3 linked regions of the Homo sapiens genome follow. The protein of the gene in region 2 interacts with the protein of the main gene of each other region in a pairwise test. Each region holds a gene or a part of one and is shown on either strand. Other genes may lie near its edges.

Region 1 (8,246 bases), on a different chromosome or scaffold from region 2:
TGTTTCACAGTTTCACCTCTTACACTTAAGCCTTTAGTTCATTTGAGTTGGTTTTTCTATGTGATGAGAGATAAGGGTCTAATGTTATTCTTTCATATGTGTGTATCCAGTTTTCCCAATGCCATTTATTAAAGTGACTGTCTTTTACCTATTGTGTTCTTAGCACTTTTGTCAAAAATTAGTTGGCTGTAAATGTGTGGATTTATTTCTGGGCTCTCCATTTCTGTTGCATTGGTCAGTGTCTGTTTTTATGCAAGTACCATGCTGTTTTGGTTACTATAGCTTTGTAGTATATTTTGAAGTCAGATAGTATGATGCCTCCAGCATTTTGTTTGTGTGTGTGTGTGTGTGTGTGTGTGTGTGTGTTTTCTCAAGGTTACTTTGACTATGTTTTTATAATTCCATACAAATTTACGATTTTTTAATGCTGTGAAGGTTGTCTTTGATATTTTCATAGGTATTGCATTGAATCTGTAAATTGCTTTGGGTATTATGGCCATTTTAGCAATATTTATTCTTCCAATCCAAGAACATGAGATATCTTTACATTTATTTGTGTCTTCTTCAATTTCCTTCATCAATGTCTTACAATTTTCAGTATAGAGATGTTTTACCTCCTCAGTTAAATTTATTCCTAAATGTTTTAATTATTTTGTAGCCATTGCAAATGAGATTGTTTTCTTGATTTCTGTTTGAGAGAGCTTGCTGTTTGTGTATAGAAACACTAATGACTTTTGTATGTTGATTTTATGTCCTTCAACTTTGCTGAGTTTGTTTATTCTATTTAACAGGTGTTTTTTTTTTGGTAGAGTCTTTAGGGTTTTCTATGTTTAAGATCATGTCATCTGCAAACAGGTGTAGTTTAACTTCCTCTTTTCCAATCTAGATTCTTTTTATTTATTTCTCTTGCCTAATTGCACTGGCTAGGACTTCCAGTACTATATTGAATAGAAGTGGTGAAAGTCAGCATCCTTGTCTTGTTTCTGATTTTAGAGGAAATGCTTTCAACTTTTCCCTCTTCAATATGATATTAGGTGTGAGTTTGCCATAATTGTCTTTATTATGTTGAGGTACCTTACATCTATACCTATTTTGTTGAGAGTTTTTATCATGATGTTGAATTTGTTTAATACTTTTTCTGCATCTATTGAAATGATCATGTTTTTGTCCTTTTTTATGTTAGCGTGATCCATGTTTATCAATTTATGTTTATTGAACCAACTTTTCATCTCTTGGATGAATCACATTTGATAATGATGCATGATCATTTTAACGTACTTCTGAATGTGGTTTGCTAATATTTTGTTGAGGATTGTGCATCTATGTTAATCAAGGATATTGGCCTGTAACTTTACTTTTGTTGTTGTATCTGGTTTTGGTGTCAGGGTAATGCTAGGAAGCTTGTTTTTAGGGTAACACTAGAGAGCTTGATGGAAGCAAGCTGACATATAGGAAAAAAAGTAGAGAAGTCAAGAACTTAGTAGTCCAGATGAGGTCAAAGATCAGGTAAAACAGAAATCTCTAACTTAGAAAACTGAAAAAATCAGATATTATATTTTAAAACTAGGAATTTTTAAATTTTTTTTTTTGAGTCAGGATCTCACTCTGCTGCCCAGGTTGGAGTGCAGTAGTGTGATTGTAGTTCACTGCAGCCTCGATCTCTTGGGCTAAAGTGATTCTCCCACCTCAGCCTCCTGAGTAGGTAGGACTCTAGACATGCACCACCATGCCTGGCTAATTTTTAATTTTCATATTATTTAGAAATGAGGTCTCACTACATTGCCTAGGCTGGTCTCAAACTTCTGGCCTTGCGTGATCCTTCTGCCTGGGACTCTAGGCACATGTCACCGTGCCCAGATAATTTTTAAAACTTTTTATAAAGATGGGGTCTTGCTACTTTGTCCAGGCTGGTAGCAAGTTTGTAGGCTCAAGTGATCTTCCCACCTCAGCCTCCTGAAGTGTTAGGATTACAGGCATGAATCTCTGTGCCCAGCTTCAATTTATTTTCTATGAGTGGAACAATTCTGCATAATAACAAGGTCTTCATGGCTTGGGAGGAAGTGGCAGAAGTAGAATGAAGTGGAAGTCATTGGATTTGATGAAGTTGAAGAAGCTTTGCATTAGGGTATTTTATAGGCTATCTACATGGGTGATGAAATCTCAAGATGATGGTAGGCCTTTTAATGGAGTGGAAGTCTATGGTCTAGTTTTCAGATACTTTAATGAATGATCGGAAATAACAAAGAGATTGGAAGTAGACAATAGTGACGACATGTGGAAGGTAAACCGCATTTAATGATCTGGATGCAGCATCAGGGACTGAAGAGGTTGCCAACCCTACCTCCCTACTTGAAGTGTGGTACATTGAGCAACAACCATTTGAGAGTGATGGAGGGAGAATAGTTTTTTGGGAGGATAAATTCAGTTTTAAGTTGAGACTTAGCTGGCAGAAGCCTCCTGTAGTAAAACTAAAGATGCAGGAAAAATTGTTTAGCATGTGCCAGGGGTTCCAGAGGACACAGTAGAAGGAGAGCTCAGAGGGTGAGGGTTTGCGCAGGAGGTGGGCATATGAGAGAAAAATAGCACAGTAAGGGTGGTGACTGAAGCCAGTGTGGATGGGGGGGTATGTATCTTGAATTGTCACAGTCCTTTGCCCACTGCAGAGAGCAGGGAGTGCCACTGTCTTAATGTTTGGATTTTTTCAGGTTTTCGAAAGGCCTTACACTCTGACCGTCCTCCTTCTGCATCTCAGCCCAGAGGGGAACTTATGTGTTATAAGGCCAAGACATTCCAGATGGACGATTACAGTCTCTGTGGGTTGATAAGTCACAAGGACCAGCACAGTCCAGGTGAGTACCTTTATAGGAACATTTTCTCAACAATGTTTTTCTGTCACATATACAGGACTAGGCAAGCTAAAAGCTTGTAGTTACAGCTATGACAAGAGATGCATGTTTCTCGAAGGGACCCCCCATGCATTGGAAAAGATTCATTCCTCCACCCACAGAACCAGCCTGGAAACTTACCATGCAGATGAGGCAGGCCTCGGTTCACCCCTGCAATCTATAGGGACTGACAAACTAGCCTTCAATGTTCTGCTGCCTGTGGCTTTCTTTACCCAGGAGTTCATCTGTTTGAAAAGCACTGGGCAGAAGGTCAGATTTGTTCCGCCCCTATGTTTCCCAGGGTCAGCCTAGCTAGGTTCATTAGGATATCATATAGGACCTTGAAACCTGCTATCCCAGTGGAGTCTAGGGTGACCCCTAGTCGAACAAACCCCCTTGGCCATCTCAGCTCACACAGCTTGCCTGCGGGCTGCCCTCGCCCCCCAGCAGAGCCCTGCTGCCACCATCTGTGAGCCCCTGTTCCACTGGTCATCCTTTCACAAGTAGGGTTTGAAGACCGATCTTCTGGATGTTGTCTGATGACTTTCTTTCTATTGCATTCTTGCTATGGCCTGTCTCTGAATTTAGCAGCCCTAAATTCAAGTGTGCTGAGGTGCCGATAGCTCCACAATTTCTCATTCTTCTCTTTTCTTTCTCCTCAAAGGCTTTGGAGAGAATCACCTTGTGCAGCTGATTTACCACCAAAATGCAAATGGTTCCTGGGATCTGAATGAAGATCTAGCCAAGATCCTAGGTATGAGTTTGGAAGAAATAATGGCTGCACAGCCTGCCGAGGTAAGATTCAATGGAAAAAGGAGTATGTATGTTTTTGAGAGAGAGGTCATCATTGAGAATTGAGGTGATTCAGGACCTACCTGAGGAAGGAAAATATAGGGGGTCATAGACTAAATTAATTTGTAATAAATAGAGGCTGAAGGTTTTTCCAGTCATGTTAGAGCAGAAAGATCAAGGGATTAATGGGGAAGCTAGTAGGAATTGATGGGGTTTTTTTTGCTGGTGGATGACAAAGGGAAAGCAAAAATCCTCTTCCACTTTAATCGTATTCCCTGCCAATCATCTTGGTTATGTAACTAATACTTAGTGAGCAATTACTCTGTGCCAAGCACTGTGCTAAGCAGTTAATATTCATGAGCTTATTTATTTCACACATTAATTTAATAAGGTAGATCCCATTTGTGTTGCTGTTTATAGATGAAGAAACTGAAGTTCAGGGAGGTCTAAAAATGTGTCTGAGTTTACCTAGCCCATCAGTGGCAGAGCCAGATTCAGTTCTAAGAGTATCTGTCTTGAGAACCCCCAATAATAACCTCATTATTGCTCCTCTTCATACCGATGAAAGTGGTCCAGACATTGGCAAAAGTTAACTGAAGTCAGGATAGGTAAAGTGTTGTTACTAGGAACCACCTAGTTGTTTCAGATGTATTTAAATATGCTGATAAGGATAAATTGCATTCCAGAATTTCAAGGTAACTTACAAAATCTTCTAACGCTCATTGAGAAGTTGTTAGGCATGAGACAGGTGCAAAAAGCCTGAAGGACAAATATCATTCTAAACTTTCAAAATGTGGAAGGAGATCAAATAAATTTCAGATATTCTGCAATTCCACTGTCCAATACAGTATCCACTAGTCACATGTGGCTATTGTGCCTTTGAAACGTGGCTAATACAAATGAGGAACTGAATTTTTAATTCAATAGAGGTGTGCTATGGTGGGAAATACATACTAATTGCAAAGACTTTTATAAAAAGGAATAAAACATTTCATCAATAATTATTTTTATATTGATTGCATGTTAAAATGATGACTTTTTAATAGATTGGGTTAAATAAAATATATCAGTAAAATAATTATACCTCTTTTACTTTTTAAAATTTGGCTACCAGAAAATTTAAAATTACATATGTTTCTAGCATTATATTTTTATTGGAAAATGCTGTTCTAGAAAAGTAATTAAGATGATAATTCATACACACTTGGAAGAGGATACAGGGATTATTAGATGCACTGGGAACAAAAAACTTCAGACTGACATTTCCTTCTTTGGAATGGTAACCAGGCCAATGAATCAAGTGAACCAACAGACCTGGTATATCTGAATTTCAGTAAGGAATTTGATTTTTTTTTTAATGATGAGAACATGGACCAAGTACAAATTAGTTGAAAACCTATGGCGCTGAATGATGAATTGATTTCAAACATGAAACAGATTTTTAGACCCACCAGGCTCTGAATTCTCTGGAGGTCCACAGTTTCAATGAAGATTTAGATGAAGATAAAGACCAAGACTTTCCTATTTGTAGATGACAAAACTGGGAGATAAACTATCAGTCAAAAGAATCAGGATCCCAAAAAACCTCTGAACAATGAGTTGCAACTTTTCATTAAAAAAAAAGAAAAACAACATAGTAGGAATAAAAGCTAAGTACTGTTTTGGGTTCCAAATTCCCAACTCTACAGGTAGAGAAGAGAGCATTTGCACATGAAAATCAGAGGTTTTAGATGACTACAACTGTGTGAATCAGAATATTTAACTAAGAAATGGAGGACAACAGGGTTACCTGAAATGGGCTGTGATTGTAGAATTCTATAAGTACATTTACCTCCAGATAGACCATTTAAGGAGATATATTTTTAAAATCATTACGCTGTTTGTTTTTAGACTAGGAGAACAAGCGTGGGGATGCTTACTGCTTTGACATAAGCAGTCCTCTTAAGGAAGAAATGGAGGAATTGAGAATTCTAATCTGAAATAAGACCACTCAGAGAGGACATGATAGCCATTTCCAAGTTTTAAAAGTCATGATATAAAATAGGAATTTCCCTTGATCTCCTGACTCTGAAAGCTGAAGCTGGGAGCAGTGAGCGAAAACTCATGGGAGACAATTTTCTGCTGCATGGCTGAGATTTTCTATTGAGAAATAAGAGAATATAACTAGAGTCAGAATATTTGGCCTTTAGTCTCACTTCTGTCGTTTGCTAGACAGCTAAGTTTGAGCAAATCATTTTGTTAATACTTCTATATGAAATCAGTTTTCTTTCTTAAAAATGTTTATTGATATTTTTTCATGATTTCTTTGGTGGGGGGGTATAAGGGTTACAATTAAAAAAAACTTATGAAGGTTCTTTATAAACTATAAAGCAGTTTTGCCTGTGTTTCTCTTACTAGAGCTGGCCTTGTCTTAGGGGTTTCCAGAACCGTCCTGGTGGTTACACTGGATTTAAAACTTAGGATTTTCTATTTCGAGACTCAATGGATTGCTGCCCTGAGGTTTAAGGCCTGGCATTATGCCTTGCAAGTAGTATCTGGAGGTAAAGAGAGACCAGGTAACTCCATCTAGTGACATTTAGAAGGATGCTAAGTGAGGAGGGAGTGAAGCTTTTTGCATCCTTTTGAGGGACTTCCTGTGCCAACTGGAGCTCTCTATCTACTGTGCAGCTTGTGGATTCCTCAGGCTGGGCCACCATCCTGGCCGTGATCTGGCTGCACAGCAATGGTAAGGACTTGAAGTGTGAATGGGAGCTTCTGGAAAGGAAGGCCGTGGCCTGGATGCGTGCCCATGCAGGTAGGAGCACAATCCTAAGGCCTGTCTCCTTCCCCTTCCCTGGCCTGGCGGAAGGTGACCACAAGAGAGTCCCATTGTCACCTGCCTCCACCATCCTGCTTCAGATCTTTACTAATCTTTCTGCTAGTTCTTTTCTTGGGAGGACAAGGGTGAAATATTAAATTGGGGACAAGGTAGGTGGGTGAGTAGGGAGGGAGAGGGACACAAATGGGGAGTGTGAACTGTGAGAAGGACAAGTGGCATTGATTCTCCTTACTGTCTCAGTACCAAGCTGAGTAGAAGACTAGACTTGGTGCGTGTTCTCCTGGCTGTTTGTTATCTCACTGCAGCTGAGTGTATCTGGGGCCAGAGAAGATTCAAGGAGAATCTGGGTAGCAAGAAAAGAAAAAGCAGGGATATTGAGGACAGATAAAAGCACAACTCAGGGTAGATGATCTGGGAGGTTTGGAGGAGCCTCTAATTGCAATCCTTCATCCCTGCTTCTTGTTTTTCCTCACCACAGGCTCCACCATGCCTTCGGTTGTGAAAGCTGCTATTACTTTCCTGAAGTCATCTGTGGATCCTGCTATCTTTGCCTTTTGAAGATACCATCCAGAAAAAGAAGTGCCTTTAATTTGCTACTGTCATTTCCTCTAGTATCACTTTTGCTGTGATGATGTGTTCTTGTGTATTATAACTCTTTATTTTTTGCCATAAAAGTAAAGGATGCTTACTCCACTTCGCTTCTCTGCTCCAGGTTCACTTTGGATATGATCTTTCTTTTCCCAACATATGCCCTCAGAAAAGTGACAGTGGTCCCAGAACCTATTCCCTTTCTTGAGGGAGTTCAAAACATTCATAGGCAGTAATGTTCCTCCCAGGGTTTCCAGGGAAACAACATGAAAAACAGGTGACATGAACTACAGACTAAAGATTGCAGCATTTATGTTAGAGAATGCTTGAATTAGAGAATTTTCTGCATTATCTTTGTCTGTTCACTTTCTATCTTATATACTTATCAGGGCCATACTGGTAAGCTTGCGTAGGAGGAGTTAGAGGGAAGTTGAAAGCCAACATCTGGATCAATGTAATGTCAAGATCACAAAGACAGAGACTGCAGGGGTCCACTGTGAGAGGTGACACTGTTGGGGACCTTCCTGATTCATTCTTCTTGGGCTTTGCTAGCCTGTACAACCTACATGTCTTTTCTTCCACTGCCTGAAAGACTTGGGTTGAACTATAACTGTTGGAGAGAGATGTTCCTCTTTAATCATGAAACACCTTAAGAAGTCTATAATGCAATCCTTAGTCCTACCCTGAACCTATGTGTCCTCTAAGTCAGGCCCTGATCTAGTGCAGTAAAGGGAAGGGTGGGCTTAATGGGAGCTTTGCCTGGGACCTGAACCTGGAGCACTTACCGCATTAGGAAGAAAGGAGCTCCCCGTAATCGTTCCTGACCCTTGTGTCTCATATACCCTATCCTGGTGGAAATGACCCTATTTGATATGCTGTCCCTTAAAATAACTTGTATCAATATTAAAATGACTATTTCTACCCTTTGATGAGTAAATGCAGTGGTTCTTAAAGTGGTCTCGTCTCCCTACCCCACAATATTTTGGTACTGCCACTTTGGGAAGCCAAACTAGGATAGTAAATTGACCGGAACACAGTTGTGGAAATTTGACCTGAAGTTAGTGAAATAAAACTTAGTAGGGAAAAAAAGCTTAGCAAGAGGTCTACTCCTCCATAGATTCATTTATTGAACTTACATTGGTTTTATTGTCCCTTGTTTTCTG
Region 2 (4,739 bases):
GGCTGAGGTGAGAGGATCTCCTGAGCCTGTGGAGGTAGAGGCTGCCGTGAGCCATGATCACACGCCTGGACAACAGAGTGAGATCCTTTCTCAAAAAATAGCCAGGTTCAGTGGCCCATGCCTGTAATCCCAGCACTTTGGGAGACTGAGGCGGATGGATCACTTGAGGTCAAGAGTTCGAGACTGGCCTGGCCAACATGGTGAAACCCCATCTCTACTAAAACTACAAAAATTAGCCTGGCATGGTGGCACACGTCTGTCTTCCCAGCTACTCGGGAAACTGAGGCAGGAGAATGGCTTGAACCCTGGTGGTGGAGGCTGCAGTAAGCCAAGATCGCGAGACTCGGTCTCAGAAAAAAAAAAAGAATCCTTTCTGACAAAAAATCATCATCTTTTCAATGAATCTTCTTTTGCTTTTCATAAGTACCTTGCACTGTGCTTAAATCCATTTCCTCTCATTCTGCCCTCAGTAGGGAGCTCATTAATATCCTCTGCATCATGAACCCAAAGACCAGCATTAATGCAACCTCCACATTCTCTTCCTCAAGTTGAACAATCCCGTTGCCTTTCATCTTGTGTCCTGGCTTTTGCTTTCCAGCCCTTTAAACAGCCAAGACACTGAGTACAGCGGGAGAATTGCTTTCTAGTTGCTGTGGCCCGCGCACCTGTTCACATAATGCAGCGTCGTAACGCCTTCTGCTTGAACTTTCCTTTGTGTTGTTGAGAGTGTTTCCTTTGGCATCGTATCACTGCATACTGCTTGCTTTAGAACACCAGGGCCACGTGACTCAATTATGCATATTTCTTGTTATGCACCAGGCTTCCTGAGCCCTTTCTCAACTCTGTATGCTAGATCAGTCATTCTTCATTGTAGGTTGGCTTGTTTGCCTTGCCTCCTTCCTCCCGAGTAGTCCTTCGGGTCCAGGTCCCTCTTGGGCTCATCGTGTGCATTTCTCACCATTTCTCACTCCCTCCTGCCTCAATGAAAGGTCCTCAAGTTTGAGTGGCGACAGCAGCATATGGTGACTTGCATTTATATAATCTAAATTTTGTTCCTTTTTTTTTTTCTCTTTCTCTGTCTGCTAAGATGCTGGATTTGAGATTCCAAACTTATTTGTGGTGGGATATGCCTTAGATTACAATGAATACTTCAGAGATCTGAATGTAAGTCTTGCATGCAAATCCCTAACCGCCCTTTTTATAAGAACTTAACAATTTAAAAAAGTATTGAATGCGTGTTAGTGATGTCTGCTATTGATTGAGTATCTTCTATGTCAGGAGTATGGTGAGCACATTGCATCCATACTCCCAATTAACTCCCACTACTATTCTGCAGGGTAGGTATCAGGATGATAGAGGCAAATTATGATTATCTCTATTTTGTACTAAAGAAATAGGAAGCTAAAAGCAGAACTATGGTTTGACACTGATTCTTCTCCATAGTCATTGACTGTGCCCAACCAACCATAACAATAGCCAATATTCTATACACTGGTTTGTGTCAGTGCTTGAACTCTAGCAGGTTTCAATTACAGTGGCATGCAGCTCATAACTCTTCCCTCTTTGGGGGAAATGATCTCACCACACAGACGTGGACCCCCAGTGTGGACCCCAGCTGTGTGACCCTGACCAACACTGCATGATCTAGAGGTAGACAACTTACCCATAGTGGACCAATCAGTCTCTCTGTCCTGGGAATTAGAAATTTAAACCAAAAGTCACAGAGACTGAGTGTGTTCAGACTTCAACCACTAGGATAGCAGTGCCCCCAGAGAGTATCCATAGCACCATGGGTGAAAGTCTCTGGAGCTGCCCTTGTTCCTGCCTTCTAGTTGCTTCATTGCCCAGCTCATCCTTGGATTCTGAGAGCTACCCCAGTATTCCACCAATAAATTCCCCCTCCCCCCTCTTTAAAGACACAGGGTCTCACTCCACAGTCTCACCTAGGCTAGAGTGCAGTGACGCAATCATAGCTCACTGCAGCCTTGAACTCCCAGGCTCAAGCGATCCTCCCGCCTCAGCCTCCTGAGTAGCTGGGACTACAGGCACACGCCACTATGCCTAGCTAATATTTTTACTTGCTGTAGAGATGGGGTCTTCGTATGCTGTCCAGGCTGGTCTTGAACTCCTGGCTTCAAATCATGCTCCCACCTCAGCCTCCCAAAGTACTGGGATTACAGACAGGGGCCACTGAGCCCATCCAAATCCTCCTTTTTTGCTTACATTAGCCTGGCCCCATTTCTGTTGCTTTCAATCAAAATATTCCTAACCCTTTGCTTGTTGCCCAAAAAGGGTTGAATAAGAGCCCATGTTGTGCTTGCCACTGTTATTTCTCCATTCACCCAAGCAGTTGTCATCTTACCAGTAGGAGACTTCTGTTTCTAGCAGGGCTAAACATACAGCTCCCTCAGCATTTCTGGGTTTTAGGGACCTGGGGAGCCGGATTCAGAATAGGAATCTCCAAACTAAACCACAAAGGACCTTTTGTCAAGCACTTGAATGGGTCTCTTTAGATTTTACCCACACATATAAATACACACATTTCTATTTAAATGATCAATAGCCAATTACAGGATGGCATTCGGTTATTACTGCATCACCTTTTCTGTGTCTCATATTTTGTTAAGAAACTGATGCGTTTAAATCCTTTATTGTTTCAGCACATATGCGTCATCAATGAGCACGGTAAAGAAAAATATCGAGTCTAAAGACATGAATTCTCACCACTAAAGTCCCAGATAGCATCATATTTACGCCTGTACTTGGGAAGCCAGCTGTCAAGTTTGTCCCCCCAGGCATCTTCACTCAGCAGGATATAAAAGAAAAAAATGTTCAAATGAGAGAGCTTTCTTTTCTGAGGTTAATATAAAGAGTATCAAAGGTTCCTAAGGAAAAGAAAGCAGTGCTTTTATTTGACTTGTTCCAAATTAAACACTCCGCCTTGTGACTCAGCAATGCTATCTACCTTCACACTCCTGAGCTCCGCCTTCCTTTGTTTTGATACAGTCATTATATTTGATTAGTATTCCCAGGAATACCCCCACCTAGTTACTCAAATATTTTTCACTTAACTTTTTATACTCTTATTTTGGTAATAAGCTTACAATATTAAGAAGCTGGGGACTTTTTTTTAACTGAAGACTTGAGTCCCCTATACCGGGAATGCAGCTATTAATAGATTCCCATATTTTAAAAGGAGGGAAAGGACAATTTAATATAAATTTCTGTTTGTGCATTTCTGACAGGCCATTATTATCTGCTTTGACAAAGCCTTTCTGAAACGCAGTGTACAATGAATCTTAATGATGTTATGAAACGAGCTTTGCTCGGGGCTCTTGATTGGAGCTTCCGGTATGTGATGACGGTATGTCATGTATGCATGGATGTACTCAACTGTGTTTAATACTCTGAATTTTAATTAGAAAAAAATACAATAGCAGCAAGGCCCTGGTTTCTAAGCTGTATCCTTTTATTCATGTGGGACATGAGCAAATGGCAGAATTAGGGGCGAGTGCTTTCAATGCTCGAAACTAAGCAAGTATAAATTTTTCCTCTTATTTGCATGAAAGGACAAGACACTGTTATGCCCTGTCCTAAATGTGAAGACAGAGGTTGAATTTTTTAAAAAATATCTTTAAAAGACTGATCACAAAATCCAAGGTGCTACAGGAAACAAGCACACTCAAGAAAGTTTTTTTCTGAATAACATTTTTTTCCAATTTCTCCGTTTTATAAGACATTTCCTAATTTATGGGGATTTTAATTGAAAATAAACTTGAGTCCCAATAGAGCTGTTTTTTTCTCACTTCCTACAAAATGCAAATGCAAAATAAATAACTAAGCAGCTTTTGTTTGGTTCTGAACCGTATGTGGCGTATTGTTATTAGGTTCTAGCTTCCTTTAAACTAATAAAGAATAAGAAAACTTGTTATGTTTTATCACTTCTTACTGTTTTTCTTCCGCCTCCATATTTTTTAAATACTTTCAGACATTAACATGTATGTGAGTCAGTAGCTTAAATATACGACTGCATGTATCTATCCTGCGGCTTTATTTTTGTTAACTTGGATTAAATCCAATATATGCACTAGTAGAAGCAAATGATTAAGCTGGGCTAGATCTGCTGCTTTTTTTTTTCCTCAAGCTCGTTTGTGAGAACAAGGAATTTTAGTTGTAAAAGAAGATTTTCCTGCATATCTTTGTTTCGGTCAGAGAAGAAAACAAGCCACACCCAAATATCCCAAGGGATAAGTCTGCAAAAGGAATCTCTTCTAGCTTTGTTTCACAGAAGCATTGGTACCCAAGCTTAGATTTATAATTGTGTCTGACTGACGAATTTCTTGAAATACCAAAATTAACACTCTGAATATAGCTTTTTTTTCACAATGCCATGTTTATGTCAGAGGACCTAGAAAAATCCAGGCACACATTTGGTTTTAAGTGTAAAATTATCCATAAGTATGCAATATGAAAATGTTTTCTTAAAAACGTTGAATTTTAGTAAGCATCAGTATCCTTTCTGAGGACAGTCTGTTTATTCAAATTAGAAAGGAGATTGATCTACCTCACAAGATTGTGAGGACTTGTATAGTTAATGCTGAAAATTCACTAAATATGCAAGAAGTTTAATCATGCTTGCAGTTTTTTCCTACCAGACAATATTTTGACAGTGATAGCCAAGAAAGTCATCTTGGGAAAAATAGTATTTCCTTTTCTCTTGCAAAACTCATGTCTAGTTA
Region 3 (8,386 bases), on a different chromosome or scaffold from region 2:
AACTGACATAAAGTTAATTGTAAGACACCTAGAATGATGTCCAGCACATAAGCAACTATATTAACTTTAACAAAAAATCTTGGCCGGGCACGGTGGCTCACACCTGTAATCCCAGCATTTTGGGAGGCCGAGGTGGGTGGATCACCTGAGGTCAGAAGTTCGAGATCAACCTGGCCAATATGGTGAAAGCTTGTCTGTACTAAAAATACAAAAAATTAGCCGGGTGTGGTGGTGGGTGCCTGTAATCCCAGCTACTCAGGAGGCTGAGGCAGGAGAATCCTTGAACCCTGGAGGGGGATCTTGCAGTGAGCTGAGATGGCACCATTGCACTCCAGCCTGGGCGACAGAGACAGACTCTGTCTCAAAAAAAAAAAAAAAAAAATCTCTGTGCACTTCCTCCTTGAAGCCATGTAGCCCAGCTGTATATCCATCTTACCCTTTGGAATATGAGATGCTTAAGGCTGGGACTATGTCCAATTCTCTCTGTACCCCAGTGCCCAGAGGAGTCCAGCACTTACTTATTGTCTGCGGCAGGCATTGAATTTTCCAAATATTCCTGGTCCCAGGTGCTCTTTCAACCTCTTGCTGCCTCCTGTCTGGAGGTGAGGTCTCTTTCCCCTCCCCTTGAGCCTGGGTGGTGCTCATGTGATTGCCTCAACAAATAGAATGTGGTGGAAATGGCACTGGATGGCTTCTGAGGCTAGGTTATAAAAGGGATGTAAGTTCCACCTGGCTCTCACTGGGAATGCTCACCCGTGGACTCCAGCCACCATATTGTGGGGAAGCCCAAGCCATGTGGAAAAGCCACTTGCAGGTGTTCTAGTCAATGGCCTCAGCTAAGATCTTAGCCAAGAGCCAATATTAAGTGGTAGACCTGTGGTATTAAGAACATTCATGCTGTTATACAATTATCACTACCATCCATCCGCAAAACTCTTTTCATCTTGTAAAACCAGAACTCTATGCCTATTAAATGATAAGTCTTCATTCCCCCTCCTACCAGCCCCTAACCACCATTCTACTTTCTTTTGTTGATTCTGGCCACTCTAGGTATCTCAGACAAGTGAAATCATACAGTGCTTTTTCTTTTTCTTTTTTTTTTTTTTTGAGACAGAGTCTCATTTTGTTGCCCAGGCTGGAGTGCAGTGGTGCGACCTCAGCTCACTGCAACCTCTGCCTCCCAGGTTCAAGCGATTCTCCTGCTTCAGCCTCCCGAGTAGCTGGGACTACAGGCACTCATCACCGCACCTGGCTACTGTTTGTAATTTTAATAGAGACGGGATTTCACCATGTTGGCCAGGCTGGTCTTGAACTCCTGACCTCAGGTGATTTTCCCACCTTGGCCTCCCAAAGTGCTGGGATTACAGGTGTGAGCCACCGCACCCGGCCTACAGTGCTTGTTCTTTTATGGCTGTTTTATTTCACTTAATGTTCTCAAGGACCATCCATGTTGTGGCATATGCCAGAATTTCCTTCCTTTTTAGGGCTGAATTGTATGTCTGGCCCACATTTTGCTGACCACTCATCCGTTGATGGACACGTGATGCTTTCACCTCTTGGCTTTTGTGAATGATGCTGCTACAAACGTGGGTGTTCACATGTCTCTTTGAGTTCCTGCTTTTGGTTATTTGGGGGATATACCCAGAAGTGGAATTGCTGGATCATATAGTAATTCTATGATGAGGTTTTTGAGGAACAGCCACGCTGTTTTCACAGGGTTCCAGTTTACTCACATTCTGGCCAACAGTTGTTATTTTCTGGATTTTTTTTTTAATCATAGGCATCCTAATGAGTGTGAGGTGGCAGACTCCCTCAGTCTCTAGGGCAGAGAAGAGAGAGCCTCTGAGAAGGGTCTGTGACTTTGAACACTAGAGCTCTGAGCAGGAACATTCCCGAGGGCTGCTTCTAGTCTCCTGAAGACCAGAGCTAACCACTGGGAATGGATTGTGGTGACTGAAGGGTGCCGAAGTCAGAACTCTCAGTGGCCTGGCACTGTGCCTCGAAGTGCCTCCCTACTGTGTTGATTAGTCTAAAAACATGTCAGCCTTTGGGTATGACCTTACTGGGGCCCCTCCAGACAGGGCATGGAGCAGAGGGCCCTCCTTTATGGGCTGGACTCACTAGTGAAGCTGCTTAACTGTGACTCACCTCCAAGGCTCAAGGTGATGCTAAGGTGCTAAACTGCTGGAACTCTTAGCTGTGCCTGTGTCTCCTTGGGCTCTGGGAGATTTTTTCTTTTAGCAGTATTTTATGGCGATATTGTCTAGGTAGAATAAAATGTACAGATCCTGGTTTTCTGTTTGAGTTTTGTTTTGTTTTGTTTTGAGACAGGGTCTTGCTCTGTCACTCAACCTGCAATGCAGTGGCACGATCATAGCTCACTGTGGCCTCAGCCTCCCAGGCTCAAGCAATACTCCTGCCTCAGCCTCCCTGTAGCTGGGACTACAGGCATGCACCACCATGCCTCACTAATTTTTTTGATTTTTAGTACACAGAAGGTCTTGCTATGCCGCCCAGGCTTGTCTCAAACTCCCGGACTCAAGCAATTCTCCTGCCTCAGTCTCCCAAAGTGCTGAATTACAGGTGTCAGCTGCTGCACCCAGCCTCAGCCTGTTGTTAATGGATGTAAACACCTGTGGGACCACCACCCAGAACCAGATCCAGAACATTTCCAGCCTCTCGAAGACTCCTTCGTGCCCCTCCCAGTCAGTGACTCCCAAGGGTAACGCCACTCTGGCCTGTTGTTCAACTTGACTCGAATGGAATTCTCACAGCATGTGTCTGTTTGGATCTGGCTTCTTCCGCTCAGTTGCAAGGCTCATTGACGTTTCCTGTGGCCTAGCTCCTTTTTATTGCTGAGGGCCACCCTGTGGTGTGAAAACCACAATTCATTTCTCCCTTCTTCTGTTGGTGACTATTTGCATTGTTACCAGCCTGGGGCTATGACGAGTAAAGCTTTTAAAAACAGACAAATATGTTTTCCTTTCTCTTGGGTAATTTTTCAGAAGTAGAAAAGCCAGCAACTTTGAAGTAGATATTTGACTATATTACAACTCACCAAGCAGTTTTTCTTTCTTTTTATTTTTTTTATTTTTTGAGACAGAGTCTTGCTCTGTTACCTAGGCTGGAGTGCAGTGGCGTGATGAGGGTTCACTGCAGCCTCGGCCTCCTGGGCTCAAGTGAGCCTCCCACCTCAGCCTCCCACATAGCTGGGACCACAGGTGTGCACCACCACACCTGGCTAATTTGCCTTTTAAATTATATGTAGAGACAGGGTCTTCCTATCTTGACCAGGCTGGTCTCAACTTCTTGGACTCAAGTGATCCTCCCGCTTCAGCCTCCCAAAGGGCTGGGATTACAGGCATGAGCCACCACGCCCTGCCCATTTTTCTAAGTTGGATTATTTTACACTCAAGTCTGCTATGAATGATAGTTCCAGTTGTTCCATATCCCAATCAATTGGTGATTGCTACAAATGACGTGACGTGATGAAAATATTCCTGGTGTTCGAGAGGATTGCAAAGAATTTCCCTTCTTTTCTCTCCTTTCTGCTCCCCTTGTACTGTCTACTCCTTAACTTGGTCAAATTCTACTTGATCCAGAACATAATGGGATGGTGAGTGCAGACGACACACACGGCCTCAGTCTATGGGAACATCTCAAAGGAGTTCGTCTGCAAATTCTAGTGCATCTAGGCAGAACACAGGAAGGAAGAGAGGTGCAGACTCACGTATGGCCTGGGGCACCTGCCATCCCCTCGAGCCTGTATGGTCCTTACCCGCCCATCCCCAGCTTGAGTTCTGGGCCTTCTCGCCAGCACATCGTTGGGACCTGGTCAACTTCAGGTAAGTTTATTTCATGGCTCCCTCTCCCCTCTGCAGCCTATCCTGTTATTCTCTGTTTCAGCCAATTATTTCCCCTAACTAGGTGCTGAAGCCAATTAAAGGCAGTTCATGCCATATGTTCCTTCCCACTCCCATGTCACTTGAAATGTTCTATTATGTCCAAGACTTCTCTCCCCATCCTAAAGCTCACAAAATAAGGATGGAGAAGAGAAGAAAGAGAGATTCACTGAGGGGGAGGATCAGAAGCTCCTGGGCACCCCATACTCTAGAATAAAAATCTTCATTATAGTGTTTTTCATGCAAAATATTCCCTTCTACATAATTATGTTTTAACATGAAGAATAGAAATTTAAAGAGGAGAAATACTTCTTGAAGATTCTGAGAATCTTCATATAGCTCAGGCTGCCACGAATTAGCTGTGTGACCTGGGGCATGTCCCTCAGACTCTGAGCCTCAGCTTCTCTATATGTAAAATGGGTTGAAGCCGCCCTTCCCCACAAGCACCCTGTGCACAGGCAATGCCCAGCCCCATTATTTTCTGGAACCAGTGGCCAAGCATGCTTAGGACACCCAGCCACATACTTCTGGGCAGTGTCATCTGGCAACTCACTGTCATGTCAGTGTGGTCAAGCATTGTAGACCTCTATGAACCAAATATGCTTCAGGCTGGGGTTGAGCACAGGAGAGGGAGGAGGGAAAGGTCACTGGGGCTGGGAGTGCCTACTTCCCTCTATGAGTGTCACCCCAGTTCACCCAACACCCTACCTTTCTCTCTCTGGACCCACTTCCTCTTGCTGCCGGCTCCTCCCCATTGAATAACAGCCAAGTTGCTTTGGTTTCTATTACTTTGTTAAGTCATTCCTTCTGCAAAGGACTGCCTGGCAGGTGTGAAAGGCAGCGGTGGCCACAGAGGCGGTGGAGATGGCCTTCAGCGGTTCCCAGGCTCCCTATCTGAGCCCAGTGAGTTCCAGGGCCGTGGGCACAGGGCTGCCTCAGCCAGGGGGACACAGTTATGGGGCTCTGAGGAAGCAACTCCTGGGTGGCAGGAGACAGGGGTGGGGGCATCCCAAAGAGAACACAAGCAGGGCAGAAATGTCAGTGGGGGTCGTCCTGGCACAGCTGTGCCATGCTGAGCTCACTCATGCCTGGAGGGATGCTCCTCCCATGAATCATGGGTTTGACAGTGTTGGCTGAGCTGTCGTGTCCTGTCCTGTGCGCTCAGGGGAAGAGGTGTAGAGTGGGATGGTTTGTGTAAAGAGGAAGCAAGCATGCTTCTGGGACAGTAAGGATGCTACCCGGCATGGTAGTTAAGGGTGCGTACTGTGGAGTTGGCCTCCCTGGGTCCAGCTATTTACTGGCTGGTGGTCTCTGGGCCTCAGTTTCCATATCTGTGAAGTGGGAATAATACTTGAGCCCCCCACTCCCAGGGTTGGGATATGGATTAAGGAAGTAGTGTATCTAGAGTGTTTGAACAGTGCCTGACACACTGTAGGTGCTTTGGGAGTGTTTCATGTTATTGGGAGTCTGGGGGCAGCAGGGAAGGCCTCCCGAGGAGGTGTCTGTGCTCTGAAGGGTGAGGCGGAGTTAACCAGGCATAGGCATGTCAGGGCATCTGTAGACGGACAGTCTCAGAGGTGACGGAGGCAGGGACTGTCCCTGCAGTGTGGGGTCAGAGGGCTGCAGGTGCCTTGCTGAAACTCTGTGAGGTTTATGAGTCCCCTTCATTCACGGAAAATCCAAGGTTCAGGGAGGCAAAGGCCAGTTGCCAAATGCCCCCAGATGGGAGTGGCAGCCCCAGGAGCCCAGGAGCCTTCAGGGGTGACTGTGTCCTGGGCTGGGTCCTGTCACAGGATCTCACCCTGCCTTGGCAAAGAGCTTCCCGAGGGGCTGGAGTGGGTGGGCTGATGGGCCCTTCCTGAGTGGGGAGACAGAATGGGGAGGGTGGGCAGAGGCAGGGTGCTGAGGGCAGGGAAGCTGCCAGGGGCCACCTCAGCAGAGGCCAGGGTCGGGCTTGGGTGCCCTCTGGTGATACTGAGTCCAGAATGAGGCTGCCTATGTTCTGGTCTGCAGAGCTCAGCTCTGCTTTCTAGACTCCAGAGAGGAAGAATGGAGAAAGGAGGCCTGTTTCCTCCTGGCTGTCACCAATGACCCCTCAGCCACCCTATGGAAGCCCCCAAGGTAGAACCTGCATAGAGGGAGTGGGGGAAGCTGGAACGGGCTGCCGGTGTTGGGCGAGCCTTAGAGTCAGCGTATGCCACCTTGAGCATGTCACCCCGTTTCTGGTTTTCTGCCAGAGAGGGGATCCCAGAGCTTCTTCCAGGTTCTGACATATTATTATTCTGGTAACTGGTTTTTACTTTCTAATCTTTGGATTCAGAAGGAAAATCCTCCTATGCACATCAGAGAGTTTGAGAGAGTTAAAGCGGGGCCTTGGAGCTCAGACAAGAAAGACGATCAGTGCAGCCCCCACAGGTGTCCAGAGCTCCCCTCTACCCTACGGGGGCTCCCCTGGGTTGGGACACTTGAGCCTCACTCGGTGACCCATCTGGCAGTCGGAGCCACGCTTTCTCCACATGCCGACAGTGGGGGAAGGTCACGCGGTTCACTGTCCTGCTGAGGAGGGCTGAGTGCCATGAGGGCCTGGCTTGGAAACCTCACTCCCACTTCTTGTCTGGCCTCATCTAGCCCAGCCTCTTTGGAGGGCTGGGGGGAAGCTGGAACCACCTGCTGTGTGGCCCAGGAAGCACTGCGAGAGCCAGGAATAAGGACGTTCCGAGCTTCCTCATGAGAGGAAGCCTGTGTGGTGGTTAGAAGCGTGGGTGCTGGGGTTCAAATCCCAGCTCTGTTGCCGACCAGCTGTGTAGCTTTGGGCAAGTGACTGAACTTTTCTGTGCCTCAGTTTCCTCATCTGTAAAAGTGGCCGGGGTTGCTGTGAGGATAAATGTTCCCGGTCACCCCCAGAGCCCTCATGGACACACATGGATCCAAATGCCACAGCAGCCTTAGCTGGCCAACTTAAAACAACACATTTGTGCTTACAGTGTTGGAGGTCAGAAGGCTAAAATCAAAGTGTCATGAAAGGTGGCCAGCAGGACCGTGGAGCCTCTGAGGCAACAGGGCACTTTGGCTAAGGGCCACGTACTGGCTCCAGCTGGCAGGCAGTCTCGGCCAGCCAGGCTGAGCTCCCTACTCCTGGGGCCAGGCCTTGGTGTCCTCTGGTGATGCTGAGTCCAGAATGAGGCTGCCCACATTCTGGTCCGCAGGGCTCAGCTCTGCTTTGACTTCCAGGTAGGAAGAAGAGGGAAAGTCCCCGGTCTCTGGGCACAACCAGGAACAGAGAGCAAGTTCTGACTCAGCAGAGGGATTGATTTGTTCCATGCAAAGAGCTGCACTGTCAAGGCCGACATGGGCCAGAGGCTCAGCACATGGCATCGCACCCCGTCCTCTCAGAACGCTGCCAGCCAGGGACTCAGCACATGGCATTCCACCCAGTCCTCTCCAGAATGCTGCCAGCCAGGGACTCAGCACACAGCATTGCACCCAGTCCTCTCCAGAACACTGTCGGGTGGTGTTACTGCCCTGCCATTCAGAGGAGGGAAGTGGGGCACAGGCAGGTCAAGTGACTTGGCCAGTGTCAGAATTGCTAGTGTACAGAGCTGGGAGGCGAGCCCAGGCCCATGGGACCACAAATCCAACACAAAAATCCATCCTCCTGCACCCTACGGAGCAAAAGTAGGTCCAGTTGTTTTCCTGGGTTTCCTGGACACACGGATCTAAATTCCACAGCAGCCTTGGCTGGCCAATCTTAAAACAACAAATTTGCTTTCTTAATGATTCTGGAGGGCAGATGTTAAAATCATCGTGTGAGCAAGGTTGTTTCCTTCCGGAGGCTCCAGGGGAGAATCTGTTTCTTTTGCTTTTCCAGCTTCTAGAGGCTGCCTGCCTGCCTTGGCTTATGACCCCTCCTGCCATCTTTAAAACCAGCAGCTTTGTCTGGGTGCAGTGGCTCATGCCTGTAATCCCAGCACTTTGGGAAGCTGAGGCAGGAGGATCTCTTTAGCCCAGGAGTTGGAGACCAGCCTGGGCAACAAACTGAGACTGTGTCTCTACAAAGAATAGACAAAAATTAGCCAGGCATGGTGGTGCATGCCTGTAGTCCCAGCTACCTGGGAGGCTGAGGTGGGAGGATCGCGTGAGCCTGGGGAAGTGGAGGCTGCAGTGAGCTGAGATCATGCCACTGCACTCCAGCCTGGGTGACAGAATGAGATCCTGTCTCAAAAAAAAAAAAAAAAAAAAAACACAACAAACAAACAAACAAAACCCCCAAAACCAGCTTCTTGCTTCTGTTGTCACATCTCTTACCTCTGACTTTGATCCTCCTGCTCCCTTTTATAGGACCTTTGTGATTACATTGGGACCACCTGTATAATCCAAGACAATCTCCCCATGCCAAAATTATGCATTTAATCACATCTGCAAAGTCCCTTCTACAACATATTCACAGTTTCCGGGGATTCGAATGTGGATGTTTCTGGGGGGTC

The links. Proteins that work in one complex are often made in the same cells at the same time.
Region 1: the proteins of PRTFDC1 (region 2) and VWA5A interact in binary tests that used the Homo sapiens proteins (3 or more experiments, as listed by UniProt).
Region 3: the proteins of PRTFDC1 (region 2) and LGALS9B interact in binary tests that used the Homo sapiens proteins (3 or more experiments, as listed by UniProt).

Annotation. Positions count from the first base shown.
Region 1 is NC_000011.10:124,138,893-124,147,138, forward strand, and holds part of VWA5A (von Willebrand factor A domain-containing protein 5A), read left to right. Parts: intron 1-2,705; coding exon 2,706-2,849; intron 2,850-3,549; coding exon 3,550-3,680; intron 3,681-6,344; coding exon 6,345-6,471; intron 6,472-6,973; coding exon 6,974-7,053; 3' UTR 7,054-8,246. UniProt on the Homo sapiens protein: May play a role in tumorigenesis as a tumor suppressor. Altered expression of this protein and disruption of the molecular pathway it is involved in, may contribute directly to or modify tumorigenesis.
Region 2 is NC_000010.11:24,847,813-24,852,551, reverse strand, and holds the end of PRTFDC1 (phosphoribosyltransferase domain-containing protein 1), read left to right. Parts: intron 1-1,087; coding exon 1,088-1,164; intron 1,165-2,660; coding exon 2,661-2,708; 3' UTR 2,709-3,938; downstream 3,939-4,739. UniProt on the Homo sapiens protein: Has low, barely detectable phosphoribosyltransferase activity (in vitro). Binds GMP, IMP and alpha-D-5-phosphoribosyl 1-pyrophosphate (PRPP). Is not expected to contribute to purine metabolism or GMP salvage.
Region 3 is NC_000017.11:20,463,851-20,472,236, reverse strand, and holds the start of LGALS9B (galectin-9B), read left to right. Parts: upstream 1-4,697; 5' UTR 4,698-4,766; coding exon 4,767-4,805; intron 4,806-8,386.